5 separate regions of the Homo sapiens genome follow, and regions 1, 3, 4 and 5 are each linked to region 2. The links come from fine-mapping of genetic effects on gene expression. A gene starts in region 2. Each other region holds a variant in brackets. All regions are shown on one strand. Distances are between the middles of the regions.

Region 1 (6,774 bases), 35 kb after region 2:
GTTATGACCCATTTTAAGCCTCCCATGAACACAGTTTTTAAAATAAAATTAAGGACTGGTCCTTTTCTAGGTGACACAAGTAAAGTAATAGCTAGGACAAAATAAAGAGGGGTTCCCAAGCATATAACCCTAAAATTTAATGCCTGTGCCACTATCAATAGCAATCAGCATAGAATAAGATGCAGTTCTTTAAATTGAAAAAAGTAGGAAGTGTTGCCTTCCTTGTTGGAAGCAAGTAAAACTCCAAAAAAAAGGGAGTTGTACAGCAAAATAAACTTTAGATCTCGACCAAATTTTGTGAGATCAGGGATTGTCTGGAGGGGGTGTTCCCAGACCTCAGCAAATTGTCTTATTGGTTTGAGCCATAAACATAGCTCATGCTGGTACCAAGCACCGATAGGAGATTTGTCAAAGGTCAAGAGCACCTCCACTCAGAATCCCTCGCGGTTACCAAAATGCGAACCCCCAAAATCTGAGACAGGTCTCAGTTAATTTAGAAAGTTTACTTTGCCGGCGGGGGCGGTGACTCACGCCTGTAATCCCAGCACTTCGGGAGGCGGAGGCAGGCAGATTAGGAGGTCAGGAGATAGAGACCATCCTGGCTAACACAGTGAAACCCCGTCTCTATTAAAAACACAAAACAATTAGCCAGGTGTGCTGGCGGGCGCCTGTAGTCCCAGCTGCTGGGGAGGCTGAGGCAGGAGAATGGCGTGAACATAGGAGGCGGAGCTTGCAGTGAGCCGAGATTGCACCACTGCACTCCAGCCTGGGAGACAGAGCGAGTGTCAAAAAAAAAAAAAAAAAAAAAAAAAAAAGAAAGTTTACTTTGCCAAGGTTGAGGACACGTGCCCGTGACACAGCCTCAGTAAGTCCTGAAGACATGTGCCCAAGGTGGTCAGGACACAGCTTGGTTTTTATACATTTTAGGGAGACCTGAAACATCAATCAATATATGTAAGAAGTACATTGGTTCCATCCAGAAAGGTGGAGACAACTCAAAGCAGGGAAGGGGCTTCCAGGTTACTGGGAGGTGGGAGACAAAGCGTTGCATTCTTCTGAGTTTCTGATAAGCCTTTCCAAAGGAGGCAATCAGATACACATCTATCTCAGTGAGCAGAGGGATGACTTTGAATAGAGTGGGAGACAGGTTTGCCCTGAGCAGTTTCCAGCTTGACTTTTGCCTTTAGCTTAGTAATTTGGGGGTCCCAAAATGTTCCTTTCTCAGATGAATTCCACTGTGACTATTTTTTTTCTTTTGTCTCTTGTGCTTTTGGTGCTGGCTAGGAAGGCTTAGCCTAATCCAAGATCATGAAGATGTACACTTTTATTTTTTCCTAAGAGTTTTAGTTCCTATAAAACTATATAAAAATATAGTTTTAACTCATATTTAGGTCTATGTTCTATTTGGAGTTAAATTTCTGTATGGTGCACTTTGAATGTGCATATTCAGTTGTTACAGCACCATTATTGAAAAGACAATTCTGGCCGGGCCTGGTGGCTCACTCCTGTAATCCCAGAGCTTTGAGAGGCTGAGGCAGGTGAATCATCTGAGGTCAAGAGTTTGAGACCAGCCTGGCCAACGTGGTGAAACCCCATCTCTATGAAAAATAAAAAAATTAGCTGGGTGTGGTAGTGCACGCCTATAATTACAGCTACTCGGGAGGCTGAGGCCTGAGAATTGCTTGAACCTGGGAGGCAGAGGTCGCAGTGAGCTGAGATCCTGCCACTGCACTCCAGCCTGAGTGACAGAGGGAGACTCTCTCAAAAAGAAAGAAACAGAGAAAAAGAAAAGATAATTCTTCCCCCACATTAAATTGTTTTGGGATTTATGTGAAAAATAAGTTGAAGGCTGGGCGCTCGGACTAATGCCTGTAATCCCAGCACGTTGGGAGGCCAAGACTGGAGGATCGCTTTAGCCCAGGAGTTCAAGTCCAACCTGGGCAACATAGCAAGACTCCGCTATGTATATTAAACATACATATAAGGGTTTGTTTCTGGGCTTTTAATTCTATTCCAATGAACTATATGCCGGACTGTGTGACAGTATAAAAAATGTCCTAATATTTGTAGTTTTGTAGTAAGTTTTGAAAGTGTGAGTTCTCCATCTTTGTGGTTTTTTTTTAAATTGTTTTACTCTCCTTGGTTCCTTGCATTTCTATATAAATTTTATTATTAACTCATCAATTTTCACGAAAAGAAAAGCCAGATGAGATTTTTGACAGGATTGCATTGAACCTATAGATTTGGGGAATGCTGTCATCTTAATATTGTCATTCAATCCATGAAGATTAGATGTTTTTCCATTTATTTAAATTTTCTTTAATTTCTTTTAACAGTGTTGTGTAGTGTTCAGAATATGAGTTTTGCATTTCTTTTGTTAAATTTATTTTTAAGTATTTTATTATTTTTGATGCTACTGTAAGTAGAATTATTTTTTAAATTTCCTTTTCAGATTATTCATTTGCTGGTGTATAGAAGTACAATTGATTTTTGGATATTGATCTTGTATTCTGCTATCTCACTAAATTTATTTACTGGACTTAATAGTTTTTTAGTGATTACTTAGGATTTTCTATATACAAGACTATGATATAGTAGAGATGGTTTTACTTCTTTTTCAATATAGATCCTGTTTTTTCTTTTTCTTGTCTAGTTGCTCTGGCAAGAGACTCCAATACAATATTGAATTGAAGTAGTGAAAGCAGACATCCTTGTCTTGCTCCTGATTTTAGGAGGAAAGCATTCCATTCTGTTTTTCACCATTAGGTATGACGTGAGTTTTTCTTAGATGGTCTTTTTCAGATT[A/G]AGGAAGTTCCCTTCTGTTGCTAATTTGTTCAGTATATTTACCATGGAAAGATGCTGGGTGGCACAAACATGGCTCACTGCATCCTCAACCTCTTGGCTTCCAAGTAGCTAGGACCACAGGTGTATGCCACCAACGCTCAGCTAATTTTTCAATTTTTAGTAGAGACAAGGTCTTGTCATGTTGCCCAGGTCTGAGTTAGTTTTGATAATTGGTATTTTTCTAGGAATCAGTCAGTTTAAACTAGTTTATCTAACTTGTTGGGACACAGCTTTCATAATACTCTCTAATAACCTTTTAAGTTTTGTAAGATTGGTAGTGGTTTCCCATCTTTCATTCCTGATTTTATGAATTTGAGTCTTCTCTCTTTTTCTCTTGTTAGTCTAGCTAAATGTTTGTCAATTGTGCTGATCTTTTCAAAGAACAAGCATTTTTGGGTTTCATCGCTTTTCTCTATTGCCTTTCTATTCTCTGCATTATTTATTTCTGCTCTAATCTTTATCAACCCCTTTCTTCTCCTTCTTTTAGGTTTAGTTTGCTCTTCTTGGTTTTCTTTGAGGTAGAACATTAGGCTACTGAGTTGGGATTTTTGGGCATTTATATCTCTAAGCTTCCTGCTAAGCACTGTTTTAGCTTTATCTCCTAAAGTTTTGGTATGTTGTGGTTCCATTTTCATTCATCTGAAGGTATTTTCTAATTTCCCTTGTGATTTCTTGTTTGCCCATTGATGATTTAGGAGTGTGTTTGATTTTTACATATTTGCGAATGTTGTAAATTTCTTTCTGGTATTGTCTTTCCAGCTCCCAGAGGCTGCCACATTCTTGGGCTCATGCCCTCTCCCGTCTACAAAACCAGCAATCACATCACTCCAAATTCTGCTATCATTACATCTTCTTCTCTGACTCTCTTGCCCCTTTCTTTCCCTCATAAGGAGACATGATTACATTGGGCCAACCGGGATAATCCAGAACAATCTTCCCATCTCAAAATCTTTAACTTAATCACATCTGTGAAGTCTCTTTTGCCATGTAAGGTAACATATTCACAGGTTCTGAGAATTATGATGTGGACATCTTTGATCAGTTATACTTCTGCCTACCCTATCTTCTTTTCCTTCTTTACTGTGAAATATAACACACGAGAGCTGAGGCTGATCCCTATAGACAGCTCTCCCAGAGAAAGCACTGGTCTTCTGCAGACCTCCAAGAACACCGGCTGTAGGGTAGGCTGAATGAAGCCAATCAATCCTGGTAGAACTCACTACCGGATAGATGTACATTTGCAACTGCAAGGATTTGCCTGTAGTTCCTGGTTATGCAGGTAGGGGGCTGGTTCTCCCCCAGCCATAAACACTGAGGTGCTAGAATTGGGCTGGAAACCCAGGGTCTCTCTTTTCAGCTTATAATTGACTGCCAGCTACTGATCATGACAGAGAGGAGCTGGTTCTTCTCCCATTCATGCAGCCTAAGAGCCCCAGAGCCCAAGGACCAACGCCCCACTCTAGGTGTCTGTTTTCCACTCTGTTAGATCACTGTGCACTGCCCCAGAACATGATGGATAGTGGGACCCCTTTCTGCTGTCCTGATGTCAGTATTGGCTTGTCATTCTCCTTATTTTGTCATTCTCCCAACAGTACACATGTTGAGAGTGCAGGAAACGTAATAGTGGACAGATCATTATAAAGTGAACACCTCTGTAACCCCTGAACAAGCCACAAAAAAGAATGCTCCAGGCTCCAGAAGTTTCCCCCTGCTTCTTCCCAGTCACATCACCTACTCTCCCTTCTACATGAAACCACAGCCTGGTTTTATGGTTATTACCTGATTGCGTCTTTTTGTGGTTTCACCACCATCTTGTGTATCCCTTGACATCGTGTTTTAGTTTTTCCTGGTTTTGAACTTTATAGGAATGGAATCACACAGTATGTATTATTTTATTGTCTGGATTCTTTGGCTCATTTTTAAAAAAAGTTTAACTCGTGTGTGTGTGTGTGTAGCTATAGTTTGTTCATTTTTATTTGCTGTACATTCATTTGCTGAATAAATACACCACAACTTATCTATCTATTGTGCTGTTGAGGGACATTTGGGTTGGTTTTGTCTATCACCAATAATGCTGCCCAAAACATTCTTGTATGTGTCTTAGTTTTCTAGTCTACTATTTAATATTATTGGAAACCAGGCCTCTGTTTTTATAATGATTGCTGTTATCATTGCCAAAGACTCCTCCTTTTAGTTATTGCTTCCTCAGCACTTTAGGATATTGCAAAAGAAAGCAGTCAGCTTGGCCCAAAGAAACCTGGAAAACATTGATGATTTCATTGTGGCCGCTTTGAAGGCAGGATTGTTTTTCTCTTGTTTACCATTAGATCCTCAGTACCTACCAGACATAGTTTGTTGCATGAATGAATTATGGAAGTGGGCTTTGTACCATGTCAAGCCAAGCTAAAGCAGTAAACCTTTCCTGAAGTTTCTATAGGTGAGACCTATATTTCCTTACTATAATATTCTCTCCTAATTAACCCACTGTCTTTATTATACCACATGCTCAGCAGAGTCACGATAAAGTGAGCCAGAGTGGGGAGTTTTTGATGCTTCTAATCTGAGTCCATATTGGCTTTTGGAATTTTTTCATTAATCATCCTAATAATGACTAGGAACATTCCAAGCTGTGGACTTGGGCTTTCTGTATGATACTTGAAATCCACACGGGCAGCTGGGCGCGGTGGCTCACGCCTGTAATCCCAGCACTTTGGGAGGCCGAGGTGGGCAGATCATGAGGTCAGGAGATCAAGACCATCCTGGCTAACACGGTGAAACCCCATCTCTACTAAAAATACAAAAAAATTAGCCAGGCATGGTGGCGGGCACCTGTATTCCCAGCTACTCGAGAGGCTGAGGCAGGAGAATGGTGTGAACCCGGCAGGCGGAGCTTGCAGTGAGCCGAGATCGCACCACTACACTCCAGCCTAGGCGGCAGAGCGAGACTCCATCTCAAAAAAAAAAAAAGAAAAGAAAAGAAATCCACATGGCCTTCCTCAAGGAGTATCAAAATCCTAAGGTACACACTTTCCTATACATATGATTAGGGAAAGCTGGTCATTTTTCATTATTCTCAAATTGTAAAAACTTTGAACTGGAAGAGAACCTCTAGAAGCTGTGCATTTAGATTTGGAAAAATGAAGGATGTGAGAGAAAACGTTTGTCATCATGATGGCTTTTAATTAGAGGAACTAATTGGGTGGAAGATGGACTTTTAGGTCTCAAAAACTAATTATTCATGCAGCGAAAGGAAGGGAACAAGGCCTAAATGAGGCACATGTACAAACTCTCTCTTCTTTTAACTGAGTATCTAGCATAGTCACCACAAGTCTAATTGGGCATTTCCTTTTAAAACTTCTCTTAATAGCTGCCCTGGTACCAGAGTGAGCTCCCCATTCAAAATATGCTTTTCAGCCTTTCTCAACAAGAATAGAATCTTTCTCTTGACTCCACACCAAAAGTTATTTTTCCTCCCTTTGAATCTCTATATCACTAGGTTCCAACCTCCCACATGACCTTCATCACTTTCCACCTTGTATTATATTTATTTATTTATACATTTATGTATATGTATATTTTATACACTTGATTCTAAGATTGTAGGGAGAAGAATGCTCCCAAATTTGTTTTGCAAATGTAAGAGTCTTGCATATAATAGATGCTCAGTCATAATTCATATGTATCAATATTACAGCTTGTGGTGAGCAAACAACACTAAAAGAGATAATCGTGGGGAAGATGCTGATGAGGCCAGGTGGGGTGAGCATTACTAAATATATTGATTCCCCATTTTGATTACTGAGAGACAAAGAAAGACATTTTCTCTCCTCCTTCTTCTTCTTCTTCTTTTTTTGAGACAGAGTCTTGCTCTGTCACCCAAGCTGGAGTGCAGTGGTGCCATCTTGGCTCCCTGCAACCTCCACCTCCCGG
Region 2 (6,774 bases):
CCTGGGAGGCGGAGATTGCCGTGAGCCAAGATCGCACCATTGCACTCCAGCCTGGGCAACAAGAGTGAAACTCTGTCTCAAACAAACAAACAAACAAAAAACCCTACAAGACTACCTAAGTTTTCACCGAGGAGCAAGAGACTCATTCTCTGAACAGAATAACTTGTAGAGAGACAAGGGAATGCAACATAAAGACAGTTTCTGATTACATCTCCTTAAATTCTGCTTGTTCACTGGTTATAGAGACTTAATCTGGAGATCAATTTTTAATTGTTCTAGTGTTTTGCCTTTAAAGGCAAACTAAATGTTGTTGTGATATTTGAACAGTATTTTGTACTGACAAAAACACATTTTAGGCCCATGGATGTTCTACCTTCGTCTCTATTTGTATTAGTCCGTTCTTGCACTGCTATAAAGAAATACCTGAGACTCAGTAATTTATAAAGAAAAGAGGGTTAATTTGCTCACAGTTCTGCTGGCTATACAGGAAGCATGATGGCTTCTGCTTCTGGGGAGGCCTCAGGAAACTTACAATCATGGCAGAAAGTAAAGGGGAAACACGCAAACATGGCCAAAGAAGGAAGATGAGAGAGAGAAGGGGGAGGTGCACACCACCCACTTTTAAACGACCAGATCTCGCGATAACTCACTCACTATTACTAGGATAGCACTGAGGGGATGGTGCTAAGTCATTCATGAAGGGCCACCCTCATGATCCAATCACCTCCCACCAGGCCCCACCTCCAACAGTGGGGATTACAATTCAACATGAAATTTGGTGGGGACATAGAACCAAACTATATCACCATTTGATAAGCAGCCTAGGGTTCTTTGAGGTCGGTTTTGTACAAAAAAAAAAGGGACTACAAGGGTCTCTGTTTGTTTATAAAGTAATAGTTGCTTTAGCAAAATTACAAATCTACAAATCTACTTTCTCTTAACCTTTTAAATTCAAATTACATACTGTTTTAAACTATTTACTCACCCGATAAAATTTTACAATTACTGTAAGGAGGCACTTTTACTGTTTAGTTAATTCTCCTAAACATTTCAAGCAACTTTTACAAATTTAATATTTGACTTTCTTTTCAAGTACTTCAATTCTATAACAAAACTCTAAGTAATTCTTATAAATATAGTAAGTTAAATTCATTTTCATACCCATTTCACCTGAAATTGAATTGTACATAAATTTTATATACTATTTTACATATAAAGACTCTATGTTTTTAAGATTAAATATAAGTCATTACTTATTACCTTATTACATAAGTTAAATAAAAGCGTAAATCAATTAGCTGATTACTTTTTTTTTTTTTTTTGAGACAGAGTCTCACTCTGTTGCCCAGGCTGGAGTGCCGTGGCACGATCTCCGCTCACTGCAACCTCTGCCTCTTGGGTTTAAGCGATTCTCCTCCTCAGCCTGCCGAATAGCTGAGACTACAGGAGCACGCCACCATGCCTGGCTAATTTTTGTATTTTTAGTAGAGACAGGGTTTCACTATATTGGCCAGGCTGGTCTCGAACTCCTGACCTCAGGTGATCCACCGCCTTGGTCTCCCAAAGTGTTGGGATTACAGGTGTGAGTCACCGCACCGAGCCACACATTTTCACTTTTTTAGAAATGGGGCCTACGTTGCTCAGAACTCCTAGCCTCAAGGGATCCTCCCACCACAGCCTGTGGAGTTGCTGGGATTACAGGTGAAAGTCACCATGCTGGCTCACATTTTAAGTTGGAATCACAAAACTAATTTCTTTTGCATCCTAGTGAACTAAATTGTCGTAAACATTGTATGTGCTTATACCAACATATACACGTTATTCTTAAATTTAATCACAAACTTTAATGTTAAAATATCAGTGTATCTAACAATCTATGTTATTTTATACCTAAGTATTTTTTTGAGATGGGATCTCACTCTGTCGACCCCTTTGGAGCGCAGTGGCACAATCATAGCTCACTGCAATCTCCACCTTCCAGGATCAAGCGATCTCCCTACCTCACTGGGACTACAGGTAAACTTTTGTATTTGTTTTTCTATTTCTAGAGATGAGGTCTCCCTGTGTTGCCCAGGCTAGTCTCAAACTCCCAGGCCCAAGCGATCCTCCTGAATAGCTGGGATCACAGGTGTGCGCCCCTACGCCTGGCTAATTTTTTTTTTTTTTTCTAGAGATGGAGGTCTCACTATGTTGCCCAGGCTGTTCCCCAACTCCTGGGCTGAAGCTATCCTCCCGGCCTCTCAAAGTGCTGGGATTACAGGCGTGAGCCACTGCTTTCGGCCCTTAATTCTACATTAGCCAGAATTCAAAGGCATTTACCCACTTAAGAAAATAGGGCACTCTCAGCTTGTTGAGATTCACAGTACACTGATAATGCTTATCTCACAGAGAGATATTCCTGAAAATCATGATTTTAAAGACTGCGCCATATGCTGGCATGTCTGCACCAGAATTTCCTTTGCGCCTCCCTGTTGGTTTGCTCCACTTTTTCACTGAGTCAGACCGTTGAACACCGTGGACACACTGTCTTGCGTTTCCGAATATTTCCTAGAATACGGACGTTTCCTAAGACTCACGATAAAGATTTTCTGATCGTCTCTCCAAAACCTTGCCACCAATTTGCACTCCCACGAATCCTGTTACCGTGACTATCTCGCCATGCCCTCCCTAGCACTGAGCGTGATCTCTAGTATCATTTTCCATCGTTGCTAATTTGAACATGAGCAGATGGAGTCCTATTATTTGGGGTCATTAATTTCGTAGCAAGTGCAGTTGAAGGTGTTTTGCATGTTCATTGTGCAGTGCGCGCCGTAGTCTGCACAGTTTGGCCGGCAGGTGGGATGAAGGGCGGGGCTGGCGGAGCGCGCCCGCCGCCTGGTAGGCCAGTTCGGAGCGGAGCCAACGCTATCCCGGGCCCCACGGCCAGGGGGCGCTGCGGCCCCCCCAATCCCCCGCCCCGTCCGGGCTGGGGCGGAGGAGCGGGCGGGGACCAAAGGTTGGTGTCTTTGCGCTCGGACCTTCGCCAGAGGGGCCGGGACATCATGACGGTGGGAGCCAGGCTCCGAAGCAAGGCGGAGAGCAGCCTCCTGCGCCGCGGGCCCCGAGGGCGAGGGCGAACCGAGGGGGACGAGGAGGCGGCCGCCATCCTGGAGCACCTGGAGTACGCGGACGAGGCGGAGGCGGCGGCCGAGAGCGGGACGAGCGCGGCGGACGAGCGGGGCCCGGGGACCCGGGGCGCGCGGAGGGTGCACTTCGCCCTCCTGCCCGAGCGCTACGAGCCACTGGAGGAGCCGGCGCCGAGCGAGCAGCCCAGGAAGAGGTACCGGAGGAAGCTGAAGAAGTACGGCAAGGTAGGGGCCCTGCGCCACCACTGCCCGGGGGGCGCGGGTGTGGTGTCCCGCGGGGGAGCGGGAGCCGGGTCCTTACCATCGACTCACCCAGTTTCTCCGGGCTGCACCTGCGACCCCTCCGCCCCCGCTCCCATTCCCTCGCCGGAGGGAAGCCGCGAGTTGCGAGTCGTGATAGAAACTTAAATCGGGGGTTGCGCTGGGTGGTCCCTGCTGTGCCTGCTATTGCGCTCCTGGCTTCTTAAGAACATTCTCAAGGGGCTCCTACCGCGGTGGTTTTTATGTAAGATCAGGAATCAGTTTCCTGATTACAGATGGGAATACTGAAGCGTTAGCGCGGCAGGTGACTTGGAGAAGGTGGCCCAGTTGGAAAGAAAGAAATTGCAACCCAGTGTATTTGTTTTCCAGTAACATCCCCTCCAGGATATCCCACTAGTTGAGAAATGTTTGGGTTACTCTCCCAAATATTCCCAAGGTTATTTCCCGAGCCTGGGAGCGCAACAAATACATAAATAGGCGCTCGTTGAATTTTTCTCGTCTAGCCAACTATCAGTGTACTCTGGGGCCTTCAAAACATTCTGCCGTTTGTCTCGGGGAGATGGGGTTAGGAAGAATGAATATGGGAGAAAATGACAGTTTCCTTCGCGGAAATCAAAGCGCAGATGCAGTTCCCAGGTGTCTCTGCATGGAAACAGTCGAAGCTGCTGCCGGAAGCTCTGCTGGCCTGGACAAGGCCACCCAGAATAAAGTCACAGAAGTTACTGTGTCCTGGCCAAAGGCCACGGGCCCCATCTGATTTATTGTCTATTTATCTGTGTTGCCCAATGCCGTCTTACACCTGAAGCCATTCAGTCTCCATGCCTGGGAGCTTAGGTTTATCATCCTCTTTAAAGGTATGTCAGCAGCTTCTGGAGCAGAATACAGGCAGGGGTAAAACTATAAAGTTGGGTCTTTCAGGCTTAGAGCCCTGCTAGGACGATTCATCTCTGCTTTGGGTCCCAGTTGAGCACAAAGAAGCCATCATGTCCCTCTCCATTGGTGAACTGATACTGCAGAAACCTCAGCTCAAGGACTAGGACTTGAAGATATTTTGGGGGCACTCATTATGCGTCAGGCATTGTGCTGAGCAGTAGAGATGCGAAAATGAATACAGTGCAGCCCTGCCCTAGAGAAGGGCACAGCCTCCCAGGGAGACACTGACATAGCTGGCTCCCCCCGCCCCCGGGGGGGCTTCAGGGCACAGAGCTCAGGCAGTTCACTCCTCAGCGGTGAGCTTGTAAACTCAGGGAAGTTTTCAAATCACGGTGACATGAAAACTGGGCACAGAAGGATGAGTTAAGATTTCACCAGATAACAGTGAAGTGGTATGAAGTAGGCACACTTCATCCCCACTAGAACGGCTACTCCAAAAAATGTCCAAACAAACCGAATAACAAATGTTGGCGAGAATGTAGAGAAATTGGAACCATTGTACATTGCTGGTGGGAATGTAAAATGGGACAGCTGCTGTGGAAAACAATTTGGGAGTTCCTTAAAAAGTTCAGTGTAGACTTATTCTGTGATCTAGCAGTTCCACTCCTAGGGATGTAACCAAAGAATTGAAAACAGGTACTCAAATCAATGTTTATATACACATTTTAATGGAATTATTATTTACAATAGTCAAAAGGTGGAAACAACCCAAATGTCCCTAAATGGATGAATGCATAAACAAGTGTGTTATATACATACAATGGAATAGTATTCAGCCATAAAAGGAAGGAAATGTACTAATCCATGCTACAATATGATGAACCTCTAAAAATATTATGCTAAGTGAAGTAAACAAGACCCGCAAGATCACATATTGTGCGTATGATTCCATTTGTATGGAATGCTTAGGATAGGTCAACCCATGGAGATGGAACACAGATTGGTGGTTGCCAGGGACTGCGGGAAAGAGGAATGGAGCCCATCTGCTTAATGGGTAATGTGTTTTTTCCTGGGGATGATGAAAATGTTTTGGAACTAGATAGAAGTGGTGGTTGCACAACAATGTAAATGTACTAAATGCCACCGGGCTGTACGCACTTTAAAATGGTGAATTTTATGTTATGTGAATTTTGCCTTAACTAAAACAAACAAAAAAAACAAGATTTCAGTGGATAGAGAAGTGGTGTCATCTCAGGTAGAGGGGCCATCACAAGCCCAGCTGTGGGCATGAAAGCTCTAGAGTGTTGCACGCTAGTTCAATGGACCCAGGAGGCCAGGTGAGAGGATGTCGTCAGGTTAGGGTTGGATCTCTCCTTTCTGCCCTTCAAAAGTGACTTCAGCTTCTACTTTCTTGGAGCCACCTGAGAGGGTCACCAGGCTCAAACATGGAGATATAAAGCAGGTGACCCCTCTTTGTTCCCCGAGACCCCAGCTCCCCTCTGAGAGAGTAGTTGGGTAGAAAGCTCTACTCAGATCAAAGAATTCCAAATGCACTCTCTTAAATGACACTGAAATAGTGGTTGAGAGATATTTTATGTTTCTTTGCATTTCATTTCTCAAATCTGTGTTTTTAACAGTGTTCCAGTTAATGAACTATTTTAGTAGATTTTTTTTCCCTAAATTACAAAGTGACAAGTAGCTTTTAAAGTATAACAGGCTGAGCAAAATGGATGTACAAATACCAAAAATGTCACGTTTAATGCAGGCGATTGTCATTCTGATCTTGTTTATAATGGATCACTCTTGATTGTTAAGCTTGTTCCCAGAGAATATGTTTTTCTTTTGTTGTTTCAAACATGTAAGTAAAATTCCCCCAGTGATTCTTATCACACATTTAAAGAACTGTATCTCTTAGCAACATCACATACCCACACATGCGCATGCCCCAGCCCAGTGTCTCTTTGAGACATCAACAGGGTAATGTCCAGGAAAGCAGTGTCTAGAGAAGACACAGACATTACTTGGTTCTTGCAAAGCTCCTCATTTAGCGGGAGAGGTACCAAAGGAAACACTCAGCCTCTTTCTACATGCTCAGGATACAGTAATGAGCACAACAGAGTCCCTGCCCTCCTTCTGTTACTGTGAGGGACCCTGTAATTTAAACTATTGAAAGCTCAGCTGGGTGTGGTGGCTCACACATGTAATCCCAGCACTTTGGGAGGCTGAGGCGGGTGGATCACCTGAGGTCAGGAGCTGGAAACCAGACTGACGAACATGGTGAACCCTGTCTCTACTAAAAATACAAAAAGATTAGCCTGGCGCGGTGGTGCATGCCTATAATCCCAGCTACTTGGGAGGCTGCAGCAGGAGAATCGCTTGAACCTGGGAGGTGGAGGTTGCAGTGAGCTGAGATCGCGCCATTGCACTCCAGACTGGGCAACAAGAGCAAAACGCGGTCTCAAAAAAAAAAAAAAAAAAAAAAGCTCAAGTAAGCCAGAAGTCATAGGAAATTATA
Region 3 (6,056 bases), 28 kb after region 2:
AGGGTCTCAGTTAATTTAGAAAGTTTATTTACAAAGTTTGTTTTGCCAGTGTTGAGGATGCATGCCCATGATATAACCACACAAAGTCCTGATGACATGTGCGCACGGTGGACTCATGGAGAGCTAAAATGTCCGTGAATATCAAGCAAAACAGGAATTAACTGCATGGACTGTACTCATCTTTTTGACTTATTGCTTAAAACATTGCTGATCCTTTGTTTTGTTTTTCGGAGTCTTGAAACTTTTCTTTTGAGCTATTGACAGCTTTTAACAATTGAGTACACTCCTATGAACAAAATTTGGAGCATATTTGTTTCTCTCTACCTGATTTCTGAAGAATTTGGAAACTATTTGTGAGTATTCTTAACTTACGACAATACAGTTATTTGCATAAGTGCAATAAGAATCTGTTCTCATTTGTAAGAGGACACAATTGGAGAAACTGGTTATTTTACCAAGGCTTTGACTGGAATGGCATGCTTTCCTTAAGGAATAAAACCTGACTTATGCAGCCAATAAAAGCCCTTGGGAAAACTGGCCTCATACTTTGTCTACAGAGTCCCTGTACAGGGTTTCTGACCTGTCGTTAGTAAAGAATGTCACCTTCTGACAGGCCCAGGAGCCCTAGGTTTATCTTGGAACCTCAAGAGGAGAGGTAATTCACCCAACTCATAGGTATTTGGTGGTGGCACAAATCCATCGCGGGGTTCGGCTTTAAAAATGTCTTGATATTTCTTCTATGGAACAAAGTTTCATCAAAGCCAATTTTAAAAAGCCTATGTGAAAAATAATTATTCTTGCTGTACTTTATACAAATAATCTGGACAGGTAAAATAAAGCAGGTTGGTCCTACCATGATTTGTCTTTAGTGAAAATGGGAAACTGGAGAGAGAGAAAAAATATGTTTCAAAAACTATAGTACACTTGTTGTTAGATTCTAGTCTTGCCTAATGTTTTTCAATTTTTATTATTTTCTACAGTTTGGGCTGAACTCTAATTTTTCCTGGCTACAAGTCTACAAAATAACATTTTCAATATTTTTTTTCTTTCTTTTCTTTTTTTCCCCAATTTTTCCTAATTTGAAATCACTGAAAACTAAGCTGTGTTTCTTAAAGCCCTGCAAACTGAAGCTAGACAACTTAAACTTCAGAAGAAAATAACAGCATCCCATTTACATACATAAGCCACTTTCCAGGATCATTCTTTTGTTTGCTGTTGTTTTTCTCCCTTCCTCCCCTTATTTTCTCTTTATAGGACATGAGACTTCATAACCTGCTAAAAATGAACTTTTGGGACCTACCTGTCTAGGAATAAACCATCCTTGCCATGAGAGATCAGATGAAACCTGAAATCAGAGACTCATTTTCTTCTAAAATACTTTCTCTAAAAGATTTTAAAAAAGAATAGGGGGGAAGTGTGAAAGGAAAATCTTGGGGCCCCCAAATTACTGAACTAAAGGTAAAAGTCAAGCTGGGAACTGGTCAGGGCAAACTTGCTTCCCATTCTATTCAAAGTCATCCCTCTGCTCACTGAGATAGATGCGTATGTGATTGCCTCCTTTGGAAACGCTTATCAGAAATTCAGAAGGATGTAACCCTTTGTCTCCCACCTCCCTGTGACCTGGAAGCCCCCTTCCTTGCTTCGAGTTGTCCCCGTCTTTCCGGATGGAACCAATACACTTTTTACATATATTGATTGATGCCTCGTATCTCCCTAAAATGTATAAAACCAAGCTGTGCCCCTTTTTCCACTGTTCTGATGTCACAATCTCCAAAGTTATTAGAAACCTGCATTCAAGGGCACCAGTTATAGCTGATTATAAAACAACTGTCTAAACAGTACCAAAGCAAGAGAACAATTGTCTGTGGATGACAAAATGTTTTAGGGCCACCATAGTCAAAGACACAATTGGCAAGAAAGTTTGTTACCTTTGTGGCACATAATAATTTTAACGTGACAATTATGATTATTACTGATAATGTACACTTAGTCATATCAGAATTACAGGAGTTGCCCATAATTTTGGAACACATACAAATAACATATTTACACAAATATGGCCCAAAGAAAACCAAACACTGTTTCATACTGAGGGAAGAGAGAGACCCTCTCCTATTGTTTGATATTGTTTTACACTCAGAAAAGGAAAGAGAAGCGAAACTAAAGGCAGGTAGCCTGGCGCCTAGGAACCAGACCCAAAACCAAGGAACCAGATCTGAAACCAGGCCTGGGCCTGCCTGACCTAAGCTGGGTAGTTAAAGATCGACACCTGACCTAGCAACTGTTGTTATCTATAGATTCCAGACACAGTATGGAAGGACGTTGTGAAACCTCCCGTTCTGTTCTGTTTCACTCTGACCACTGGTGCTTGCAGCCCCTGTCACGCAGCCCCCGGCTTGCTCAATTGATCACGACCCTCTCACGTGGACCTCCTTAGAGTTGTGAGCCCTTAAAAGGGACAGAAGTTGAGCACCTGACGAGCTCGGATTTTAAGACGCTAGTCTGCCGATACTCCCAGCTGATTAAAGCCATTCCCTTCAGTGTCTCGGTGTCTGAGGGGTTTTTTCCATGGCTGGTCCTGCTACATTTCTTGGTTCTCTGACCAGGAAGCGAGGTGATTAATGGACGGTCAAGGCAGCTCCTTAGGCAGCTTTAGCCTGCCCTGTGGAACATCCCTGAGGGGGACTCCAACCAGCCGGAGCGACACGGATCCTGAGAGTGCTCCCGGGTAGGCATTTGCCCCGGTGGGACACCTCACCAGAGCAGTGTGTGGCACGCCCCTGTGGAGGATCAACGCAGTGGCTGAACACCGGGAAGGAACTGGCGCTTGGAGTCTGGATATCTGAAACTTGGTAAGACTAGTCTTTGGAACTTGCCCACTCCATTTGAGTGGAAGCATGGCCTGATCACCCATGGTGTGCCTTTATCAGCACTTTGGTATTGGTTTTGACTTGGTTTGAATTGCTTGATAGGACTGGTCTTCGGAACTTGCCCACTCCATTTGAGTGGAAGTGTGGCCTGATCACCCACGGTGTGCCTGTACCGGCACTTTGGTTTTTGTTTTTGACTTGACTTAGGTTGCTTGATACTTTGGTTCTGGTTTTGACCTGGCCTGGATTTCTGGATACTCTGATTTTGGTTTTGATTTTGGTTTGGTGTAAACCGCAAAAGTGTGTGTGTGCCCTTTTTACCTGTTCTTTGTTTTGTGGTGTATGTGTGGTGTGAGTGTGGTGTTTTGTCTTGAAGAAGCATGGGTCAGGCACAAATAAGCCCACCCCGCTAGGAACTATGTCGAAAAA[A/T]TTCAAGAAAAGATTTAAGGGAGATTACGGTGTTACTATGACACCAGGAAAACTTAGAACTTTGTGTGAAATAGACTGGCCAGCATTAGAGGTGTGTTGGCCATCAGAAGGAAGCCTGGACAGGTCCCTTGTTTCAAAGGTATGGCACAAGGTAACCTGCAAGGCAGGGCAACCAGACCAGTTTCCGTACAGAGACACTTAGTTACAGCTGGTTTTAGACCCCCTTTCCCAAAACAGTAGTTAAGTGAACAGCAGCATAAGCGGCTGGCAGAGGCAAGGAAAGACCAGCAGAGAGAAAGAGAGGAAAGAGACAGAGAGAAAAAGAGGCAAAGAGAGAGAGGAAGAGACAGAGAGACAAAGAAGGAGTCAAGAAAAGAGAGAGGCAGAGAGAGAGGCAGAAAGAGAGGAAGAGACAGAGGCAAAAGGAAAGTCAAAGAGAGAGAGAGAGAGAGAGAAAGTCAAAGAAAGAAAGAAAAAGAGAAAGAGAAATATACAAGTAGTTAAGAAAAAAACAGTATACCCTATTCCTTTAAAAGCCAAGGTAAATTTAAAACCTATAATTGATAATTAAAGGTATTCTCCATAACCCTGTAACACTCTAATACCACTTTGTTGTCAGTGTAAACAAGGGCATATCCCGAAAGCACTGAGGTCTTCCTATCAAAAATCCTTAATCCAGTAACCCGTGGATGGCCCAGATGCCTTCAATCTGTAGCGGCAGCTGCTTTGCTAACGGGAAAAAAAAGGGCCATCTATACTAATTCTAAGTTAATTTAGACTAAACGAGGTCTTATTAATAGCAAAGGATAACTGAAATCCCAAACTTACAAGGTTTTCAACAAAAGTAAAGTTTGCTAAAGTTAACAGTGTAACATGTATTACAGTAACTTCTAATCTTGTGGCCGTAGACAATCTAGTCCACAGACATAAAGAAAGTTCGCTTTAAAAAAAAAAAAAAGAATGGTTATCTTCAAAAAAAGAAAAAAGGAAAAAAAGGGGGAGGCAGAATTTACATAAAAGAGTGTTATATGGTAAATTCTTGTCCTGAAATAAATTAACTGGTTGTTTAAAGAAAGAAATGTTTATAATAAGTCAGAAAGTTGAGACATGTCGAAGAATTGTCTGTGAAAGTCATGAAAGAAAAAAGGTTATAAAAAAATTTTATGCAAAAAATGTTGTATAATTTAAAAAGCAATAAGGCCTCCTGAGTAGTATTGAAGAAACAGTTTTATGTGCAAGGTGTATAAGAAAAGTAAAATATACCTTTGGTAAAAGGAATATAAGGAGGCATAAGAATGTGGATTTTTACCTACAGTAAAAGGTTAAAAAAATTATTGTTTTGAAAGTTTAAGCAAGTTTTAAAACATCAATTGTAAAGAAAATTCTGTGTGTAAACATATTAGCTAAAGTTAAAAAGGTATCATCCAGTTTTTCTGTGAACTGGACATTAAAGTAAAAACACAACAGGTTTTTCTTAAAGCACCAACCTGGTCTTTAACAAAAATTATAAAAGGTTAAAAAGAGTCTATAAAATCTTACCTTATGGTCAAACATGAAAATTTGGATAAATATGTCTACAAGGTTTTATTAAAATTAAATTTAACATTAATAACACACTAATATAAAGGTAGAGTTTAGCTTATCTGGTATAAAAATCATACAAGAAGCATTATTAAATATAAAATTGTGTTTAGCTTTCTTTGGTCTAAAAACTAATAAAAATAGGTGCTAAAGGAAACATGCATTTTACTAGAGGATCATAGAAGTTAAAGACTTAAAACAAACTTTGGCAATTAAGACAGCACAACAAGATGCAAATGCCTGGTTGGAATGGATCAAATATTCCATCTGCACGTTAAACAAAAGCAATTATTATGCTTGTGCACATGACAGGCCAGAGTCCCAGATGGTCCCCTTTCCACTAAGGTGGTCCTCCAGTCGACCAAGCATGGGCTCCATGGTAGCTCTTTTCCAGGATTCTACAGCCTAGAGTAATAAGTCGTGCCAAGCTCTCTCTGCTATATCCCAATGTCCGGCACCCCGTAGGTCAGCCCCCGAAGGCCATCCAGCTTCTGTCTCCCAACGCTAAGTTCACTTCGTGTCTCTCATGACAGGGAGGAAACTTAGCATTCCTTGGAGACCTGAAGGGATGCAGTGAGCTTAAGAATTTTCAAGAACTTATCAATCAGTCAGCCCTTGTTCATCCCCGAGCGGATGTATGGTGGTGTTGTGGTGGAACTTTACTGGGCACTCTGCCAAATAACTAGAGTGGCACTTGTGCTTTAGTCCATTTGGCTGTCCCTTTAACCCTGGCATTTCATCAACCAGAGGAAGAAAAAAAATAAGACATCATAAAGCGAGAGAAGCCCCTTATGGGTCTTTCAACTCTCACATCTATTTAGATGCAATTGGAGCCCCGCAAGGAATACCAGATCAATTTAAAGCTTGAAATCAAATAGCTACAGGACTCAAGTCAATATTTTGGTAGATGACAGTCAATAAAAATATAAATTAGATAAACTACATCTATTACAACCAACAGCAACAAGCTTTTCATGAGTTAAAAGAAAAACTCAGGTCGGCCCCAGCCCTGGGGCTACCTGACCTGACAAAACCTTTTACACTCTGTGTGTCAAAAAGAAAAAAAAAGGCAGTTGGAGTTTTAACCCAGACCGTGGGGCCCTGGCCAAGGCCAGTGGCCTATCTCTCAAAACAACTAGACGGGGTTTCCAAAGGCTGGCCCCCATGTCTAAGGGC
Region 4 (5,601 bases), 22 kb after region 2:
CTGGGTTCTCTCCAAAAAGTCAGCACTCAAGCTCCCATACAAATTCTGGGGCTCCATGCCAGCCTGAAGTCCAATATGTGGGTGTCTGCTTAGGGTCCTACCCTAACCCACCGTGACACTGTACCTTGGAGAGTCAAAGAAGTGTGCTTGGCTCTATAGTGTCATTCATTACCAATTCCTTTCACCTACTGATTTATTTATTTTGAGGCAGGGTCTTTGTCACCCAGGCTGGAGTGCAGTGGTGCAATCACAGCTCACTGCAGTCTCAACTTCCTGAGTTCAAGGGATGCCCTGCCTCAGCCTCCCAAGTAGCTGGGACTACAGGCATGCACCACCATGCCCGGCTAATTCTTTCATCTATTTAGTCACTCAGACATTTAACAAATGTTACCTGACACCTGCTCTGCACCTGTCACTAGGCTGGGACAGTGCACAAGCAACCAGGGGCATGGTGCCTGCCTCCTTGCCTCCTACTGAGGGGCAGACCAAGGATAAAAGACAAATGAGTAGTCAGCTGCTATGGGGGAAGCAAATGAGGAGGCCTTAGCCTCCGGTGGATGGGCAGGGAGGCCTGTGGGAGGACTTGACAGCCTTGGGGCAGGCGCTCTGGGCAGGGATAAGAGCTGCGAGGTTGTCAGAAGGGATGCCTTCAGTGCCTTCAGGAGGGTGGGGGCTCAGCGTGGTTGGGAAGGGAAGCCAGTTTCGCTGGAGAGGGGAGAGGAAGGGAGTGGGGGTGGGAAGTGGAGGTGCCTTCTCCCCACTTCCTGTAGGCTGTATTGACAGCGAGGGGAAGTGAAGGGGAAACTTTTGATAGGCTCTAAGTAGTGGGGAGGCGTGGCAGTAGGATCCACTCCATGGTTTGAAAAGATCCCTCTAACTGCTATGGGAACAGGCTGGCCTGGGGTGTGCCTTGCTGAAGCAGAGAGGAGTGGAAGGGGCCTTGGGTGGTCCAGGAGCAATGGAAAAGAGAAAGCCCACTGGAGCCATATTGAGGAAATGGGTGCATTGGCTCAAGCCTGTAATCCCAGTGCCTTGGGAGGCCAGAGTAGGAGGATTGCTTGAGGTCAGGAGTTTGAGACCAGCCTGGGCAACATAGTGAGAACTCTGTCTCTAAAAAAATGAAAAATGTTTAGCTGAGCATGGTGACATGTACCTGTAGTCCCAGCTACTCAGGAGGCTGAGGCTGGAGGATCCCTTAAGCCCAGGAGTTTGAAGCTGCAGTGAGCTATAATTTTGCCACTGTACTCCAACCTGGGCAACAAAGAGAAACCCTGTCCCCAACCCCTTTGCCCCCCTACCCCCCAAAAAAGGAAAGGAAAGAAAACAGAGGTAACAAAATTTGTCTATGTAAGTGTGGGACTTAGGGAAAGCGTGGAACCAAATAATTCTCTGGGATTTTGGTCTGAGCGACAGGGAAGGCACCAGCTGGAGGAAGAAACAGGAGAATGTGGAGACTTTTGAGCCCAAGGCCAAGATTACTGTTTATTTGTTTAATTTGCACAATGCCTCTATGCTGGGCCAGAAAGACAATGTGCAAAGCCAAGCTCTGGGGTTTTCTGCTGCAGCCAAAGTATTTCCTGTGCCCTTGTCATTTTTACCTTGGAACCTGTACAGTCACATGGTTGGCCCCGTCCCTGACCTTGTCCTCCCTGGGGGAGACAGAGACTTACTGTACACACACTCCCCATTGGTGTCTCCTGGCTCTGGAGTCTGCTTCAAGGCACATTTCAGGCCCTCCTGAAGGGGACAGAAGTGGTGCCTTTTGTGCATATAAGGCAGAACTGAGTGGAGGAAATTAACACGCGCGCCTCAGTAAAATTCAGGCCCTGCTAGGTGCTCAGTATCACGTCATTTAATCCTCATAAGAGCCCAGTAACATAGATGTTATTATCCTTCTTATTCAAATGAGGAAGTGAGACCGAGAGGCCTCTCCTTGCACAAGGCCCCACAGGAGACATCTCAGGCTGGGTGGATTCCACACCGTTCTTGGTCATGCCTTCCCTCCAGATAGATCCCGAAAGGCTTTTTCTGCTCTGGTTCTCCCACTCCCCTCAACACACACATACATTTTATGCTTGTCATCCAGGTGGACTTTACACTAGGCAGTTCCCCTTTCCCAAGCACTTCTCTTCCCATTTGAGGGTCTGTGGGTTCCCCATGTTGATTTCTCCAAAACTTAGGGAAGAAACAACTTTGTGGCTTCCAAATACAGTATTGGGTTCAGTGAAATCCCCCTCTCCTTAGGGAAATATGGGCAGCAAAAAAAATGTTTTTTTTGAGACGGAGTTTCCCTCTTGTTGCCCAGGCTGGAGTGGAATGCAATGGCGCGATCTCAGCTCACTGCAACCTCCACCTCCCGGGTTCAAGCAATTCTCCTGCCTCAGCCTCCTGAGTAGCTGGGATTACAGGCTCCCGCCACCACGTCCGGCTAATTTTTTTGTATTTTTAATAGAGACAGGGTTTCACCATGTTGGTCAGGCTGGTCTTGAACTCCTGACCTCAGGTGATCCACCCACCTCGGCCTCCCAAAGTGCTGGGATTACACGCGTGAGCCACGGCTCCTGGTCGGGCAGCAACTTTTATGCAGCGCA[C/A]CCCCTTGTTATTCAGTTAAGGGGTGATGTTTCAGGCAGAGGCTGAGGGAAGGGAGAACTGCTCCTGGGGAAATAGAGTTTAGATGGATCCGGATTGGCTGGAGCCATAGGCTCACACTCTTAGAGATGATTGCTCTTGCGGGGAGCCAGCCAGGTGAGCTTGGGCACAAAGATCTCTAGGGGCCCCTGCACCCAGGATAACACTGCGTGGTGGACCCAGACGTGCCTGCAGATGAGTTACTTTAAACCTTTCAAGGCTTTAAATGTCCTAAAAGTGTTTTTGTTTGATTACTATTTATTGTTCGTCTTCTGAATATTTACTCACAGAAGATTTGAATGGAGGAAAGAGGGATATGAAAAACACTGGTAATTCCACCACTCAGACATACGGTGATGGACATTTGCTAGATCATTTGATGCCTTCTCCAGCACACTGTGAAGTGACTGTGTGGAATGAACCATAATCTTCTATTATTGCTTGTTCGGGAGGCCTCCAGTGTTCTCTTCTGGATAGATCTCTGCAAGATCTTTGCTTCCCAAACTGCACACCACTGTGCTGTGCTGGAAGCATGAGAAACCAGACGACAAACGGGGTCTGCGGGCTTGGAGCTACTGTTTATGTGATGGAGGAGGCATTTTAAATCTATCTGGAAAGGGTGGATTACTTGATAAATGATGATGGGACAATTCGCTATTTATGTAAAAAATAATAATTTAAATAGATCCCTATATCATGCCATATTCTCACCCAAATTTCAGATAGAACTGTGGGTTAAATTTAAAAAAAAGTGTGTGTGTAATATAAATTATAATATATGCAGAATTGAAACAAAACACTTGTAAATTAAAAGGAAAAAAAGAACATTGCAAATACATCCTCAATAATAATAGAAATGCAAATTAGCACAAAAATACACCATTATAACCTATTCAATTGACTTAAAAAAATCCATTGCTTCCTTATACAAACCCTTGGCTACAGCCAAACTTTCTGAACATGTCCTTCACAGTTTTTTTTTTTTTTTTGAGACAGGGTCTTTCTCTGTCGCCCAGGCTGGAGTGCAGTGGAGCCATCTCGGCTCACTGCAACCTCCGCCTCCCAGGTTCAAGAGATTCTCCTGCCTCAGCCTCCTGAGTAGCTGGGATTACAGGCGCCTGCCACCACACCTGGCTACTTTTTTTGTACTTTCAGCAGGGACAGGATTTTGCCATGTTGGCCAGGCTGGTCTCAAACTCCTGGCCTCAAGTGATCCGCCCACGTTGGCCTCCCAAAGTGCTGGGATTACAGGCGTGACCTACCACACCCGGCCATGTCCTTCACATTTCCATCTTTTCTGCCTTTGTCCATGATGTGATCAGCCTGCAGGACCACACGTCTAGGTCTTCTGTACTTTCCTACTTAGGAATTTTCACATTTTCAGGCCCAGCTGAAAGCTTTTTCTGAACCTCTCCCTATCTCCCTCTTCCTCTGGCTAGAGGACCCCTCCCACCTCTGAAATCCCTTAGCTCTGAAAGTGTTACTGATTTTACATTAGCTTATTGAACTGCAGTTTGCTTTATATTTGCATGCAAGGAATCCATTTTCCTGACTATAATGTAAGCCCTGTTTCTAAGTTGCTGCTGTATCCTCTAACAAACATTTTTATATAAGGACAGTCTTTTTAAAAAAAAACAGATTTAGTGGGATATCATTCACATATCATACAGTTTACCCATTTAAAGTGTATAATTCGATGGTTTTTACTATGTTTTCAGGGGTGTGCAAACATCACCAAAATCTAATTTAGAATGTTTTCATCACTTCAAAAAGAGACTATGTACCCATTAGTGGTCAATCCAAATTTTCTCCCAACCCCAGATACCTACCAACCAACTTTATTTTTCTATGGATTTGCCTATTCTGGACATTTCATATAAATGCAATAAAACAAAATGTGGCCTTTGATGACTAGCTTCTTTCACTCAGCGTGATGTTTTCAAGGTTCATCCATGTTGTAGCATGTATTAGTGCCTCATTTGTTTTCAGGGCTGAATAATATTCCATTGGTTGGATACATCACATTTTGTTCAGCCATTCATCCATTGATATTTGGGTTGTGTCTGTGTTTTTGTTTATTATGAATAATTTTGCTATGAACATTTGTGTACATATTTTGTGTGGACATGTATTCCCATTTCTCTTGGGTATACAACTATGTTTAACATGTTTTTCAAACCATTTTTTTTCCCTCTGTTCTCACATCAACACAGTAATAATGAACACAGAAGACTTCTATGACCTCAAAATATGTGGGTATTTCTCTCTACCAGCAAGCAAGCAATGAATTCTGTAGATGACACCCAAATGGTCATCCTCTAATTCAGTGCTGGTACTATCTACTTGGAGATAGTGTCAGATCTCACAGTTTGAGGGATCAGTCCCCTGAGACTGTGTCCCCCGCTTTAGACCCAGTCACAAGTCTGGGATTCCAAAACTTCTGATCAACCATCTTTAAGTTGGGGTTCCCATGCCCCCCTGGATTAATTTGCTGGATTAATTTGTGTTTGATTAGTTTGCTGGAGCAGCTCTCAGAACTGAGAAAAACAATTGTGTTTACAGGTTTATTATAAGGGCTATTACAAAAGATACAGATGAAGAGAGGCATAGGGTGAGGCATGGGGGAGGGAAAGCAGAACTTCCATGCCCTCTCCTGGCATGCCACCCTCCAGGATCTCCATGTTCCAACTATCTGGAAGCTCTCTGAACCATGTCCCTTTGGGTTGTCATTGAGGCTTTATTACATAGATACGGTTGACAACCATGTAGAAATGTGATTGGACAAAAAGTGCCTGATCTAAACCCAGTAAGCTTGTCTATTCAGACTTTTTGTGGCCTCTCTGCATAGCATTCCTTTCCCCAGGGTTTGAGGCAGGACTGCTTCTGGAATGAGAGTCTTTTGACCCACAGTTAGATTAAAGGCTTGCCTTGGGAAGGTGTAAAGAGGACAGGAGAAGGTCAGAGAGAGAGATT
Region 5 (6,774 bases), 320 kb after region 2:
TGACCTTTGGCGTTTAGACTTTCTCCCCATTGGCAAACCCAGGCTCCATTTTATCCTGCAGACGGCCATTTTGGCAGTTTCCTTAACAGCTTAAGGAAAGAACGAGAAGTCTACATATGGAGACCTCATCCCGGTTGCCTAATGGATTCAAAAGACATCCTGAATATTCATCATTTCTCCTTTTATGAGCACCTTGGCAATTCTCTCTAAAGGCGAAGGCTGCAGTAAATTCAGAAGTGCCATTTAGTGAATACCAATCTATCTTCAATTCAAGTCTAACTTTTTTCCTGCTCCTCGGCACACTATGGTAGCTCCTGAGAACTCAGTGAATGCAGGGCATTGTCTCAGCTTGGGGGAGGCAGGATTGTTTGTGAAAATCCAAAGCCTGAAGCGGTGGTCTGCTCCTCAGCCTGCTTGCCTGAGCTGTATGCACTTACCTTGCATTCTCTGCAACTCCTTTCCTGGAAGCTGGAAACCTTTGGGGAAAATGGTAAAATCATGCTGGAGTGCTTGGCTTGGTGACAGGGCTTTTAATCAGTAGTTGTAAATTGGCAAATATTGTTTAGCTCTGTGCCTGTGATAGTTCCCTTAGGTGTGCTTGAGATCCATCACAACATTCCCCAAATGTGTATCCCCCAGGATACTGATGTGGGTACTTGTTCAACGGTGGTAGCTACAGACAGAGACAGAAGCCCTCTGATTATTTTTGTTCATTCGAACAGTTCAGGCTGCTTGACCCTGAGTGTGACTACAGAAGGTGCAGCGGGAGGTGGCTGTGATAGTCTCTGCTGTGGAGCCACTCTGTCTCCCCACAGGCTCTATGCTGGTAATTGAGCCTTTTCTCCCACCCAACTTCAATGTCATCCACATTAACTGCACATTGTTCATCGATTTCTCATAGTTTTTCTCTCCTTCCTGAAAAAATTGGGGCCTGAAATCTCAATCTCCATTAGCTTTTGTACCTTTTTACTCTAGAACAGAAACACATGTACTTATTATTTATCTGTTTATATTAGTATGTTCTTGAAATTTAGACTTTCAATTTCATCTCTCTCTCTCTCTCTGTCTTTTTTTTTTTTCTGAGATGGAGTCTCGCTCTGTCACCCAGGCTGGAGTGCAGTGTTACAATCTCAGCTCACTGCAACCTCTGTCTCCCAGGTTCAAGCGATTCTCCTGCTTCAGCCTCCCAAGGAGCTGGGATTACAGGAGAACGTCACCACATCCGGTTAATTTTTGTATTTTTAGTTAAGACAGGGTTTCACCATGTTGGTCAGGCTGGTTTTGAACTCCTGACCTCAAATGATCCGCCACCTCGGCCTCTCAAAGTGCTGGGATTACAGGCGTTAACCACTGTGCCTGGCCTTCATCTCTTATTCTAGAGACATTATTTCTTGGACAAAGTCAAATAATTGTCAACCCATAGGTTTGGGCCAACCCATGCTTGGGTGTTGGCCCAAAGTGTTTCTTTCCCTAGTGACCTGCCTTTCCTCCACATAGATTGTTAAACTTTCCTCTGAAGCCAAGAGGCTATGCCATTTCTCTTTCTTCCTTTATGCACCCCAACTGTCTTAGTGAATTTAAACAGCTTTTGAGCCCATCACAGAGTTTGCACACCATGGCTCACAGGCCACATCTGGCCTGTGGACCTGTTTTCCTTGGCCTTTGTATTGTTTTGAAATGTTTTCAATTAGTTGCCAACATTTACAAATTGGGAAATTTTACATTAAAGTGTCCAGACTTTGGGAGCCTCATGAAAAATCAAAAAATCTGAAAACCTTGAACCTGCATTTCTATTCAACAGTTGGCTGGGACTGAACAGATGGGGAAGTGTTAGGAGCTGTGCATGTACTCACTAGTTTGCCACAGTCCACACTACTGCTAGTATTTTATGACTCCTCTGTTCACTCTCTCACTGACCTGCCTGGCTGCTGTAGGCATTTGTGTTTGTGAGGACTGGTCTAATAGAAGACAGAAAATCTGCCTAGGAAGATTATATTTTCTGTTTTGTTGCCCACCTCCTCCAATTATTCTTCTTATAGGAAAGAAGGAATCAAAGGGATCTAAGGAAGATTTGTGACTTTTACCAATTTAGGAGACCTTATTGGAAGTTCACTAGTTTAGGAAGGAAAGATGGAAGTCTCACATTTTGGTTTATGATTATTATTTTTCTCATACTCAGAGACAGCTCTTGAACTTAGAATTATGCAATCTTGCAGCAGGAATTGAAGCAGGGTGCATAAATCAGGAACAGACTCTAAAGCAATATTGGAAGAATACAGTTCAGAAGCAATCAGCCTACAGAATAGGAAATGGCGTAGGTCTCATCTGAGGCTAGGTGTGAGTGAATTCCGTCTGGCCAAAACGTAGTACCCACCAAGGGGAGAGAAAATAGATAAAAGTGGCTAATTATCCCACAGATAAGATTAAGGATATTAAATTGCCTTCTAAATTCAGGGTGTTTTGTGAAATTAAGGGGCCATTCATCTTGTTCTTTTTATTGATTAAGAAGCAAGAGAAAAGCTTTTTAAATAGTTTGCTTCCTTGTGTTGAATAGTGAGTGGTAGAGAAAGTTGGAACCTCTTATACATCCTACAAATGACAGGCTGGTGCAATGACATGGCATGACTTTGAGAATGGTGCATAAGGAGAAGAATCATATCAGTGCTTACAAGCAACCTCTTCAAAATTTTGACTTACTCTTAGATTGTTCTTCTGCTGAAGTGACAATGCATTTGGGTACTCTGTATATATACCAATAGGGAGGTGGTAAGTGGGGTAGCTTTGCAAACTTTCCTCTGGACCTGAAATTCCAGCATCCAGTAAAGTAGGAACTTTGCATCTCCTGCTACCTGAACTCTATGTGGTCTATTTGTGGATTGGAAGGGTTGGAAGGAATACTTTGGACCTCTGTTGGTGTCAGATACGATGACAATTGAGCAGTCCTCCCAAAATTTGCTGTCTTGTTTTTATTTCATGTTATGCTAAGTCAAAATCCATATGTTGCACTCATATTTTAAACACAGGTCTACTTCTTGCTTTTTGAATTTGGGAACATTCTGATTATCAGACCCACATCCTCTCCAGGGCACTTAGCCTTGTGACACTATAACTCCCAATTTTTGGAAGTGACTCATAACGTCTGCTTATACTTCTCATTCAGTGTCATGGTTGGGTCCCTGTTGGCTTTTGATTTTAAGTGCCCGACTTGTAATCCGCTCAGCCTGAGAGAGAACTTAGAAATCGGAAGTATTTTATGTTCCAGGCTGTAGACCTTATGAGGTGATGACAGTGTTCTATAGGGATATCTGTTCTGCTTTTCCTATTGAAATCAGTGAAGGAACTGGAGCAGAGTGCTTAACAAGGGCAGAGAGCAAATGAAACTGCCTTGTGATAAAGCTGAGAATGTGATGATGG[C/A]GTGTATCAGCACAGCTCAAGGAGGGGACTGGCTAAAAAGCAGGTTGGAGAAAGAGGGAGGAAGTGAAGGTTTCTACACATATCCAAGCAAGAGAGAAAGCCAAAGGTGCCAAGAAAACCATATATATATTACATTATCAATTATATATATATGCATATATATAATTAATTTGAATAGCCCAAAGGTGTATGTTTTTAATAGGAGTGAGTGGGGGCCATTTAAAATGGGTCAAGTGCAAAGCAGGTCAAGTGCAAAACGGGTCAAGTGCAAAACGGCTGGGGCTGGGGGTCACAGGCTGGGACATCACTGGACTGAGGGGTCAGGGGTGAATTCCTGACTCAGGCTATTCTCAGCGTGTCTGCTTTCTGTTTAAAAGCTTTCTATTTGAAAAAAAAAAAAAAGACAAAAACCTGCTTTATTTTTTCCTTTGAAAAAGCAATAGCAAAAAGTATCACGGAATATCTTTAAAAATCAGTCCTTCTTTTAAACTTTTTTTTCTTTTTTTGAAGAGCCACTTCAATTTCTCCTATAGAAAACTTTCGCTAATAGATCTCATGAACATATTTGGTTCCCTTATTCCTCTCTTTTTGTAACTCTCTTGTTTATGTTGCCAGTCATACAGATGACATGTCGTTCTGTTGTGAATTCCCCATTATGTCGTTAGAATGAACATCCATTCTGCCCATTAACATGTAGTCTTTATATCTAAAGCTCTGGTCTCTAGAAATGTAACCCAATGAAAATAAACGCGTTGCGTTTTGGCTGAAAATCAACATGCCTTCATGATCAGTAAGCATTAATTGTTTTTGGCTTTGACAACAAATAAAGCTATTTCAAGGTTTCTTTAAACAGGCCTTAAATTTGTTGGAGGGTGGTGTAATACTTAGAGCATCACAATAAATATTTGTCTGTTAGAACACTCATTCATAAATGAGTAAATATGCCTTATGCCAGGAACTGAGGATGGGCCCTGGAGATACAGGAGGGAATTCCTTGTCTTCTAGGAGCTAACACTTATAATTTTGAGACTATAATTTTATCTTTATTTGGGATAAGAAATAATTACGCATTACATGTTAGAACTCAGCGCAGTGCAAGTACATTAGAGACATTTCTTAGCCTGTGTGCAGTGATTGGTTAACCCACCACAACTCAGGCAGGTCTACAAAAGCTGGATTGGTTTCTATTTAGTCTCCATGATCATTAACTAGAAATTGCCACTGAGCAATTGCTTTTGTTATATTTCCTCATGGGAGTTCTAAATTAAGGTCACTCTATACTAGCTTTACAGTCTTGGGGTTAATATAAGGAACTGGAAGTTTCTGCTTCATGCTTTATGTTTCTCCATTTTGAGACTCATTTAGAAACTTAAATTTGGAAATATATAGTCCTGTGTATTTAGCAAAGGATGCAATTTATGTCAATGGATATTTCACAGAAAAATAAACAACCTTGTGTCAAGTAGGTTTGGTAAATATTGAGTAAAACTATCTTACCTTTTAGATTGGTGCAAAAGTAATTGAGGTTTTTGCAATTAAAAATAATTGTAAAAGTAAAAATACAATTAAAAGTAAAAGTAAATCGATTTTTTTTAGGGTAAGACTTCTCAAAGACTTTAAGTGCTAATGTGCATTGTGAATCTTTAGGATTGGGTTAAGCAAAATTTTTCAAATATTTTTGGCTGCACAATATTTATAAGGAGGTTTCTCAAAGCACTTTCTGTGGGTCTAGTGTTTTATGAAATCTATGTTGGAAAGAAGTGCAATGACCACACGCTCCAATCCAGAAGACTTAGACTATAAAGAGGCTCAATGACTTGCTGAAGGTCCTGAAGACAGCCAATAGCTGCTGGGACAAGAACTCACCATTTTGTTAGCAGGCTAATGTTCTTTCCACCATGGCATGGCATTCCTTTTTATTCCTTTCCTTTTTTAGTACCTTTTCCCCACCTTGATGGCTTAGGCCTACTGGTAGCTTGTTATGTTTTCCATGTCATTTAGGTCCCTTTGAAATAGTAAGAGTGGCTCTCTCAGTTCCTTGTGTTCTGATCGGATTTTTTCCCTCGAACAGCTAAAAGTTGAGCACATCAGCTAGTTCTAGGCAACACCTCCACTCCCTCACCCTTAACCTGTCCTGGAGGAGGCTTTCACTTCAGTTCCTGCTGCTGCTTTATTATAAGCATGGATCCCTTGTTAATCCATCCCATCCATGTCCTGTCTTCCCACTAAGCTCAAGGTCAAGATATACTAATTTGAACTCATCATTAGATTTGTTTGTGCTCTTGGGTCAATTATGTTTGTGATCACTCTGAGTTCTATTCTCCTAAGCAGATTTTGTTGTGTTTTGTTTTGTTTCATGTTTTTGGAGACAGAGTCTCACTCTGTGGCCCAGGCTGGAGTGCAGTAGCATGATCTTGGCTTACTGCAACCTCCGCTTCCTGGGTGCAAGTGATTCTCGTGCCTCAGCCTTCTGAGTAGCTGACAGGCACGTGCCACCTTGCTTGACTAATTTTGTGTGTGTGTGTGTGTGTGTTTTCAGTAGAGATGGAGTTTCACCAAATTGTCCAGGCTGGTCTCAAACTCCTGACCTCAGGTGATCCACTGCCGCCTTGGCCTCCCAAAGTGCTGGGATTACAGGCATGAGCCACCATGCCCGGCTTCTCCCAAGCAGATTTTAACCTTGCTACACATAGGATCTTCCTCTGATCTTATCACTGTCTTCCATCCCAATTCCATTAGGATCCGCTTCAGTATTTTGAACTCTTCTGGCTGCTGCAATATGTTATTAACTTATGTGATATCCATCTGTAATACATACCAGTCTGTGACCATTAATGAGAAAAGAAAGTTGGTGATAAAAATTTTGTCACTGCCAAAAAGAAGATTTGCATCACTTATTTACCCAGAGGCTGTCAATGTAATTAAAAATATGATGAGGTGCTGACTGAGACACCAAATAGCTGACTGGGCAATAATTTTAGTGATTTCACTTTACTTTGGTTATTTACTTAGCTGATTGATTGTTTTGTGACATTTTATAAAAGAAAATACCTATTAAATTTCTATTCATTTGTACGTGTTTGCTGGCCTTTTCTTTCTTCAGTAGTTGTATCCTACTGTTCTCAATTCCAAGTTTTAATAAGGTTAGGGTAGAAAAACTATTATATAAGTAGAACCATGAACTATTTTAATGCAACCATTTGCTTAACAAATAAAACTAAACTTACCTTCAGAGCGAGATGAAATTTCTTTTTCAGTGCTTCTGCTGGAGATATTGCCTGATGAAGAAAAATGGTCCTGTCTTTATCAGGAGGTGTTGTCCTCCTATACCCAAGCAAGATTAAAAACTAGGCCTTCAAT

Evidence for each region. PIP is the estimated chance that this variant, and not a neighbour inherited with it, causes the effect.
Region 1: its variant is the best candidate, but not a certain one, in a credible set for the expression of C1orf115 in whole blood (TOPMed, PIP 0.68).
Region 3: its variant is the best candidate, but not a certain one, in a credible set for the expression of C1orf115 in nasal epithelium (TOPMed, PIP 0.81).
Region 4: its variant is the best candidate, but not a certain one, in a credible set for the expression of C1orf115 in lymphoblastoid cells (TwinsUK, PIP 0.68).
Region 5: its variant is the best candidate, but not a certain one, in a credible set for the expression of C1orf115 in nucleus accumbens (GTEx, PIP 0.68).

Annotation. Positions count from the first base shown.
Region 1 is chr1:220,722,662-220,729,435 of GRCh38, forward strand. No RefSeq gene overlaps it. Among named protein-coding and RNA genes, the nearest start is that of MTARC2, 22 kb to the right of the region's middle. The variant A/G (reference allele first, on the strand shown) is at 2,806.
Region 2 is chr1:220,687,362-220,694,135 of GRCh38, forward strand. C1orf115 (chromosome 1 open reading frame 115) reads left to right here and starts at 3,002. Exons shown (of 2, transcript NM_024709.5): 1 at 3,002-3,350. The coding sequence starts at 3,042. RefSeq lists a silencer at 2,833-3,072.
Region 3 is chr1:220,715,919-220,721,974 of GRCh38, forward strand. No RefSeq gene overlaps it. Among named protein-coding and RNA genes, the nearest start is that of C1orf115, 29 kb to the left of the region's middle. The variant A/T (reference allele first, on the strand shown) is at 3,300.
Region 4 is chr1:220,709,679-220,715,279 of GRCh38, forward strand. No RefSeq gene overlaps it. Among named protein-coding and RNA genes, the nearest start is that of C1orf115, 22 kb to the left of the region's middle. The variant C/A (reference allele first, on the strand shown) is at 2,592.
Region 5 is chr1:221,012,235-221,019,008 of GRCh38, forward strand. No RefSeq gene overlaps it. Among named protein-coding and RNA genes, the nearest start is that of HLX-AS1, 140 kb to the left of the region's middle. The variant C/A (reference allele first, on the strand shown) is at 3,415.